Linked DNA regions of Homo sapiens: region 1 is linked to region 2. Evidence: fine-mapped expression QTL. A gene starts in region 2. The other region holds a variant in brackets. All regions are shown on one strand. Distances are from middle to middle.

Region 1 (4,258 bases), 9.0 kb before region 2:
GGTTTATTCTCCAAGCAACAGAGATCCCTTAGAGAGGACTTTGCTGTGGACTGATGTGGGCTGGCCCACAGTTTTAATAGCTCCCTCTGGCTGAGTGTGGAGAGGGGATTTCTGGAAGACCAGGGAAGAGACTTCTGTGCCAGCAGAGATGAGCAGCAGTGGTGGCAGTGGAGGCAGAAGGAAGGGCTTGGGTCGGGGGTCTGTTTGCAGGAGCTGCTGGGAGGACCTGCCGAGGGAGAGAAGGGAAGAGGGCATGGGTGGGGGTTGAACAGAGACCCCCTCCACCCTCCAGGCCTCAAGGAGCCCCACAGGAAGTGGGTGGTCAGGCGGCCCAGCTGGGAAGGCTGACTGGTTTGTCCAGCCTGAAGCCCACGACCCTCTCCCCACCCTCTGCCCATGGCAGCCCAGGGCTAGAAATGTACCTGGAATGTCAGCCATGAAGCCCGGCCAGACAGTGCCCATGGGACCTGCTGGGGGCCAGGTGAGCACCCTGGCCACAGCCCTGCCTACAAGGGTAATCTCTCGGACCCATTGACCAGGGTAAGTGGTAATTACAGGCCCTGGAGCAGAGAGGGTGGTGACCTCCAGCCAAGACACGCAGGGACTGCGATTCGCACGCAGGACCCCTAACGAGGCACACCCTCTTTGTTGCTGAACAGGCAACAAACTGCCCCAGAGACCAGGGCGTGTCAGCAGAAAGAGCACTGGGCTATGAGTCTGAGACCCCCAGGGCCTTCTCTGAACCTTAGCCCCCTCATCTGCCAAAGAAATACTTATCCATGCACGCACGCTTGCATTGCTTCCCAAGTGTTTACTGGGCACTTGTCCTGGACAGGCGCTGTGCTGGGGGCTGGGTGTACAGCAGTGAACAAAACACACAAAAATCCCCACCTGGGCGATGGTGACATTCCACTGGAAAGAGACAGACAAGAAACAGGATATACCAGCAGGTTAATTTCTAGGATACGTGCTAAGTCCTAGGAAGAAATAAAAACAGCATGAGGCCATAGGAATGAGGGGCTGGTCAGAGAAGGTGTCCCCAGGGGTGACTTTGGAGCAGAGGCCTGACCCTAGACAAGGATCCGCCATGGGGAGAGCTGGCGAGAGTGTCCTCTGTTCCAGAGGGAAGAGTGGGTGCGAAGTCAATGAGGCAGCAGCAGGATAATTGGCAAGTTTATGGCAGAGAGATGAGGCCACCGTGGCTGTGGGTGAACAGAGAAGGGAGAGGCAGTGAGGTCAGGCGGGGCCAGGGCAGAGATCCTGCAGGCCCTGTGGGCTTCTGCTCTGAGTGAGTTGGGAGCCATAGAGGGTTCTGAGCAGAGAAGGGATAGGATCTAACTTGAGCTCTTACAGAATTCCTCTGGCTTAGGAAGGCGAGAGAGGAGGCAGGGAGACCAATGAGGAGACGACTGCAAACATCCTAGCTGGACCAGGGCAGGGCAGGGTAGTGGGGGTGGACCCTTGGACATGTGGATGAGTTTGCTGATGGGCTGACCATGGGAACAAGAGGGAGAACCCAGGTTGGGGGCCTGGGCAGCCAGGTGGCTGAGGTTGCCATCGCTGTAGCAGGGAAACTGCAGGTTTGTGGTGGGGGTAGACAGAGCTCCCTCTGAGCATGAGGCCCCACCCAGAGTAAAAGAAGGACTCCCAGTCCACACACCCCTGCCTCAAGCACAGATCAGTGAAGGGATTCTGTGGACAGGTGGCCCTGGAAGCTGTGATCTGCAGGGGCGAGGTGCCTGCTGTCTACCTGGTGAAAGTCCTACCAATGCAGCTCTTGAGGCTGCCCAGTCTCACACCCCAGGGAGCAAACTTGGCACCTGTTCTTTGCCCTACCCTGAACATCCGCTGGGCTCC[C/T]GGGGTTGGTCCCGATGTTCATTTGGAATCTCAGGGGTGATGGGTGGGGAAGGTGGAAAAACGCTGTACCTCTTTCCCACCCATCCCTGTCCCCCGTCAGCCAAACAGGGCTGAGGACTCGCGATCATTCTTCCTCTGCGCCCCTGTCCCCATACCTCTCAGAGACAGCGTGACTTGTGGCCTCTGCAGCCAGGAACGTGCTCTGGTCCCGTCATCTCACACTGCCCCATCCCCCTCATAGTCACTTGGTTTTCTGCACGTAAGTTCCCTTTTCATAGATGGAGGAACTGAGGTTCCGAGAGGTGGGGCAGGCTCCCAAGTTCACACTCAGGTTAAGTGGCAGGGGCGGGATTCACACTCAGGTCCATCTGATTCCAAAGCTCTTAAGCCCTGAGCATTATAGCTGCTGGCTTAGGTCGGCTCCCAGAAGCTGACCCAAGACAAGGTTTTGGGTGCAAGTGGGATATTTGGGAGGTGATTCTAGAAACACTGGGAAGGAGTGAGGAAGTGACACAAGGAAGGTAGATGAGCAGGTCTCCTCAGTGGGCAACAGGAGCCCAACCCCCTAGAGGCCTCTGGGACAACTCGCAGAAAGTACCTTCCCACTGTCCCCTGAGCCAGAAGCAAGGAAGCTGAGTGGGGGGACAAACAGACCCCACCTCTACTGGCAGGGGTCTCTCACTTGCTTCCCACACTCTTGTGGCCAGAGGAAGCCCTTGGGCAAGAGATTCAGGATAGCAGCTGCAAGGGCGACCTCCCAGGTGGGCACCAACAGCTTCTGAGCCCCCCAACTTCCAGGACAGCACTCACCCCAGAGAACAGGATGATGTTCAGTAGGATGTGACTGTGCTGCGTGACCTTGGCAAGTAGCTTCATCTCTCAGAGCCTCAGTTTTCTACTCTGAAGAAAGGAATCATTAAAAAAAAACAAAAAAAAAACTGTTTCACAAGGGTTGCCGGGGATTCGATGGGACATGAGGTAAAGGTCTGAGAATCACACGTGGCACATAGGAGGTGCGTTTTATGTATTTGTGGTTAAATGAGAGCATGCCTGGTGCATAGAAGCCACTCCACTATAACAGCTATTATCATTATTATTATAGTTTTGTTGTTGTTGTTGTTTAGGACCTCTCCAAGACTGCGCAAGCCTAGGTCTGCTCTGTGGGGACAAGATGGTGGCTGGACAACCTCCCCAGTTTCCTGGGTCCCACAGCCTCTTGCTTAAGGCTGCCTGAACTTTGGGGAAACAGAGGAGGAGGAGAAGGAGGAGGAAGGGGCGGAGGCTTAGGCCAGGCCTGCTAGAGGTAACCGCGGGCAGTGACCCCGCCTGAGAGGCCCCCATTCACCCGTCCACCCATCGCCAGAGCTGCCTGCCCATTCCACACAGGGGACGCCTCGTCTTGCACAACACAGGAAGGAGGAGGCCTGGGTGGCGGTGGGTGACGCCGGGACCCCGTGTCCACCCGGCTGCAGACAGGATGGGCAAGGGAGGCCCCGCCAGGCTTCCTGTGTGCCGAGCACACTGGGCAGAAAGGAGAAGTGGGGTCCAAGGTCACTGGGAGCTCTGGGCAGCACCTTCCCCTCCCTGGCCCAACTGTTCCGCCTGTTCTCCCTGACTCAGGCACCCAGGGTTCAAACCCCACCAGCTCGGCCATGTACCAGCTGCATGACTCTGGAACACGCAGCTCTCAGGGCCTCTGTGTCAGTCACTGCCAGGGTGCGGGGAAGCCCTCTGGGGGCTTGTCATCATCATCCCCATTTCACAGATAAGGAAACCAAGGCCATGGGGTATTTTCTCTCTCTCTTTTTCTCCTTTTTTTTTTTTTAAGACAGATGGGGGGTCTTGCCCTGTTGCCCAGGCTGGAGTGGAGTGGCACAGTCATAGCCCACTTCAGCCTCAATCTCCTGGGCTCAAGCAATTCTCCCACCTCAGCCTCTCAAGTAACTGGGACTACAGGCGTGCACCACTACACTCAGCTAGTTCTTTTTTTTTCCCCTCTAGAGATGGGTTCTCACTCTGTTGCCCAGCCTGGTCTGGAACTCCCGGCCTCAAGCGATCCTCCCACCTCGGCCCACCATCATAAGGTATTTTCAAACAGCATTTGTTATACTTGAAGATTTAGAGGTACAACAGGGGAGTGCAGACCTGAGGACCTACTGGGTGCCGCAGACACACCTATGAGGCCAGCGTGGCCCCTATCCTCCATCCTGGGTCCACAGCAGGCATCACTAATCAATAATGAGTCTCCTTCCTAGTATCATAGATGCAGCCTCAGAGCCCTGCTCAACACAGCTCTTCGGCCACAGTCTCCATCCGAGCACCCAAGGCCTGAGTCAGTGGGGAAGGTAGATCTGCCTGCTCCATCCAACAACAAACTGGACCAGAGGAAAAATCTGCCCAA
Region 2 (4,258 bases):
GTGCTCAAGGAGGGGGCAGTTACCCAGGGGGCAGACGCTGCCAAGAGGACCAGCCAGAGAAGGCCGAGCAAACCCAGGCCCACTGTGCCACTTAGGCCGTCAGTGAGACTCCAGCTGGTGGCCAGCCCAGCCGTGCCCCCATCACCTTCGGAGCCCACATCTCTTTGGAGCAGCCAGACAGGCTGAACCCTAATTGGCCTGAGTCAGCCACGGGAATTCCTTTCTGGTTCAAATGTGGACATGTGAGCCCATCATTCCATGAGACACCAGGGGACATCCACTGGGACATGTAAGAAAAATTGTTGGCTGGGCACGGTGGCTCACGCCTGTAATCCTAGCACTTTTGGGAGGCTGAGGTGGGTGGATCACCTGAAGTCAGGAGTTTGAGACCAGCCTGGCCAACATGGTGAAAATTCATCTCTACTAAAAATACAAAAAATTAGCTGGGAGTGGTGGCCCACGCCTGTAATCCCAGCTATGTGGGAGGCTGAGGTAGGAGAATCGCTTGAACCCAGGAGGCGGAGGTTGCAGTAAGCCGAGATCGTGCCATTGCACTCCAGCCTGGGCAACAGAGCAAGACTCTGTCTCAAAAAAAAAAAAAAAAAAAAAAGTGAGATCCTGGAGGAGAAAGTCCCCTTTTCTGTTCATCTCTTCCTAGTTAGGATGTGATCATGTGGGACGTGATGTCTTGAGCCACAGCAGGCACTGGGGCCCATGAAGAAAGAGAAGTGAAGAGATGCCTACCTAGAGCGCAGGGAGCCTGCCCTGGAACACTGGAATGGCCCCACGTTAGACTTCATGTTATAAGATTTAATTAATATTTTTACTGTTGCAGTCATAGAAGATGGCCTAATTGGGGCAAGAGGAAACATAGGAATGAACCTGAGACAGGGGAGAAAATGGAGAGAGGAGGGATGAGAGCTGGAAGGGGGTCAGAAACACCCAAGCACGGGGTTCAGATGCACAGCAGGCTCCCTAAGTGTGAGTTGCTGTTTCTGCAAACAGGAGTTGTTCCCTGAGCACCTACTCTCTACCAGGTACATTTCCAAGCCCTGGGTGTCCATCAAGTCCTTTAATCCTCCCAGCAGTGCCAGGGAGGCTTCATCTGCTCCCCACATCTCTGCTTCCCCCGCCCCATGTTCAGATTCTAAAAAACCAAAAGGGCTCCCTCTAATTCATCTCGCCCCCAGAGAGCACTGACTCCCCACGGTGTCCCACTGAGCCCCACTGAGTCCAGTCCACCTCAACTTTCCTGCCTCTGGGAACAGGGTACCCACCCTCTGAGGGCCCCACTTCCCAAAGTTCTTTGTCCTGGCACAGCAGGTGCTGAGTAGCTCCCTGGACCTCTGTTTCCGCATCTGTAAAAAGCCACTAATCCTAATTGCACCTCCTAGGCTGATTGTGATGACCCAGGAAGGACCCTTGACCCAGTGTCTGGCCTGTAGTAGGGCTCGGTAAGCGTGAAATCTGATTATTGCCCATTATATTTATGGTTATACACAGGGCTGGCCCTGCCTCCTGCTGGAGCCGTGGGTCTGTCCAGGTTGAGAAGCTGAGGTGCTTGGAGCGTCCCCAGATCCCAAACAGGGAGCTGGAGTAGGAGGCGGGAGCATGAAGTCTCCTGGGCCCCGCCCGCCACCTCGCCCTGCCGCCCCTGCTCAGCAGCCGCCCCGCCCTGCCACCTTGGTCTCTGAGAACCCATTGTTCCTACCTGGCTCTGCTCCAGGGTCCTGGCCTTGCCACTTTCCTCTAGGATCCCCCGCCACCCCCGGGGCTTGGGCCTCCCCGCGGGGTCCTAAATTGGGTGCCAGATGTGGCAGCTGTCCAGCAATGGGAACAGGAGCTGGAACCCCAGCTCTGCCACATCCCAGCTGTGTGACCTTGGGCGCTTCCCCTCTCTGAGCCTCAGCTTCCTTGTTGGTTAAATGGGATGACGGGACCTCACAGGGCTGTCATGAGGGTTTCGTGAGCCCAGGATGGCAGAGTGCCCAGCATGTGGTAGGGCTCGGGAACATTCATCCTAATTTCTCTGCTCCTCACGGGCCTAGAGGAAGAGCCAGGAACATCAGAGGCAGTGGCCAGAGTGGGTAGAGCACTGGAAGGGGAGTCTAAGGCCAGGGTCCCGGCTCCAACCCTGCTGTGTGACCTCGGGCAGGCTGTGGGTATCTCTGGGCCCCAGAATGAGGGAAAGAAGTAGCTGGGATCCTCCTTCCTCCCCAGGAAGCAAAGCAGAGGGGTGGTGCCAAGTTTTCTTTTCATTTTTTTTATTTTCAGCACAAAGGGCTCAAATGGAAAGCAGCTGCAGAGACAGAGAATCCGATTGTGAAGGCACCCGAGACTCCAGGCAGGCGGAAGAGGCAGCGTCTTGGGTGCTGGGCTGGGTAACAGAGGCCAGGGTATTGACCAGAAACTCCAACAAGCAGGGGACAGCTTGGGGGGTGGGGGGTTGTCTCCCACCCCTTCTTCAGGGTGCTGGCCTAGGAGACAGGGACCCCGCCTCGGGCATCTCCTGCTTAACCTCAGTTTCTGTGTCCAGACATGGGCAGGCCATCCTGACTCTCTTAGCCTTGGTTTCCATCTCCAAAATGTGTCCAGTAGTGGCACCTTCCTTCTAGGGAGGGGTTGTGTGGTTAAGGTCTCGGGGCGGGCTCCTCAGTCAAACAGGCTTGGCTTTGATCCTGCCTCTGCCTCTCACTAACTGTGTGACCTGGAGTAAGCCACCTCCCCTCCCTGTGCCTTGATTTTCCCATCTGTGAAATGGAAACAATAATAGAACTAATCTGCTGGGGAGATGAACTGAGAAGACTCAGCCTGGTGCCTGGAGCAGAGTAAAGACTAATGATTATTGTTGTCTTTCTTTTTGGAGGCAGAGTCTCACTGTGTTGCCCAGCCTGGAGTGCAGTGGCAGTGGCGCGATCTCGGCTCACTACAAGCTCCACCTCCCAGGTTCAATCATTGACCCTCCAGCCTCAGCCTCCCGAGAAGCTAGGACTATAGGCTCACACCACCAGGCCCAGCTAATTTTTTGTATTTTTAGTAGAGACCAGGTTTCACCATGTTGACCAGGCTGGTCTTGAACTCCTGGCCTGAAGTGATCTGCCTGCCTTAGCCTCCCAAATTGCTGGGATTCCAGGTGTGAGTCACCGCGTCCAGGCATCTTTCTTATTATTATTATCCCAGGAGCTCCACCTGCTAAGGCCCCAGCCTCAGAAAGCCTCCCTTCCCCTGAGTGCTGGTTCATCTCAACAATTTCCTCACATATTTCTTGAGCAGCAACTATACCGGTCTTGGCAAAGCCAAGGTTCTATCTAGGAGAAGAAAGACATTAAATGAAGGACCCGTGTGTGAAGGGCTTGGTGAGTAGCAGGGGCTCATTGACACTGTTCACCAGCACCTGCCCCCTCAGCTGCTCTGTGCTGGACTCTTTCTGGGCTCTGGGGACACAGTCTTCAGGGGAGTCCCAATCAGAGGGTCTGGGTGGAGGTGAGAAGCTGGTGTGTGGATGAGGCAGTTTCTCACACTGTGGCAAGGTCTGTGATGGAGGAAGTCCAGGTGACTTTGGGAGCTAGAGGTCAGGATGGGCTTCCTGGAGGAAGTGGTTAGGAATGAAAATAACATCTATTCAGCATTATTATTATGATGTGTCAGGCACTGTTCTCTCCTCAACACCCCGCTCCAGAAGGTTTTCTTCTCACACACCCATTCTACAGGTGAGTCTGGGATCAAAGAGGCCCAGTAGGGTGTCAGAGGTCACGTAGCCAAGACATGGCAGAGCTGAGATGAAACCCCGCAGTGGGACACTGCCCCACTTGCCCCCCGACAGCGCTCTCCAGCCTCCAGGCCTTTGCTCCAGCTCTTCCTTCTGCCCAGACATTCCAGACCCTGCACCGTCTCATATCCACTCTGCTGGAGGAATGAAGAGAACAGCCCTTGGAGGCCGCAAAGTGTCCTCAAGCCTCAGTTTTCCCATCTATGAAATGGGGATAGCATGGGGCTTTCCTCTCGGGCTGCAGAAAGGATCGAGAAAAGGCTTATTATTCACCTAGGGCCTAGCCCTTGGGAACCAGTCCGGAAGGACAGCTGTTATTATTGCTAATGCTGTTCCTATCACAGTGACAGCGTGTCCCGTTAGGCCTGCAAACCCCTATACCTCAGTTTTTCCTGTAATGAAACCTGCCTGCTGAGGCCTCGGTGAGGGCTCATTTAATGATAATCTTTAGGGAAAAAAAATACACCCCCCAAGCCGCCTGTGTGGCTG

Which allele goes with the higher level. Positions count from the first base shown, and alleles are read on the strand shown. Sizes are in standard deviations (SD) of each study's normalised expression.
As copies of C replace T in region 1, the expression in spleen of the gene that starts at base 1,897 in region 2 goes up (moderate effect, 0.46 SD a copy in GTEx).

Evidence for each region.
Region 1: its variant is fine-mapped to the expression of PELATON in spleen (GTEx, PIP above 0.99). The same link has a PIP of 0.9 or more in whole blood.

What each region holds. Positions count from the first base shown.
Region 1 is chr20:50,274,145-50,278,402 of GRCh38, reverse strand. PELATON (plaque enriched lncRNA in atherosclerotic and inflammatory bowel macrophage regulation) reads right to left here. Exons shown (of 4, transcript NR_170992.1): 2 at 2,668-2,752; 3 at 790-912; 4 at 1-226. Among named protein-coding and RNA genes, the nearest start is that of PELATON, 8.8 kb to the right of the region's middle. RefSeq lists enhancers at 394-931, 2,776-3,275, 3,276-3,777. The variant C/T (reference allele first, on the strand shown) is at 1,858.
Region 2 is chr20:50,265,117-50,269,374 of GRCh38, reverse strand. PELATON (plaque enriched lncRNA in atherosclerotic and inflammatory bowel macrophage regulation) reads right to left here and starts at 1,897. Exons shown (of 4, transcript NR_170992.1): 1 at 1,712-1,897.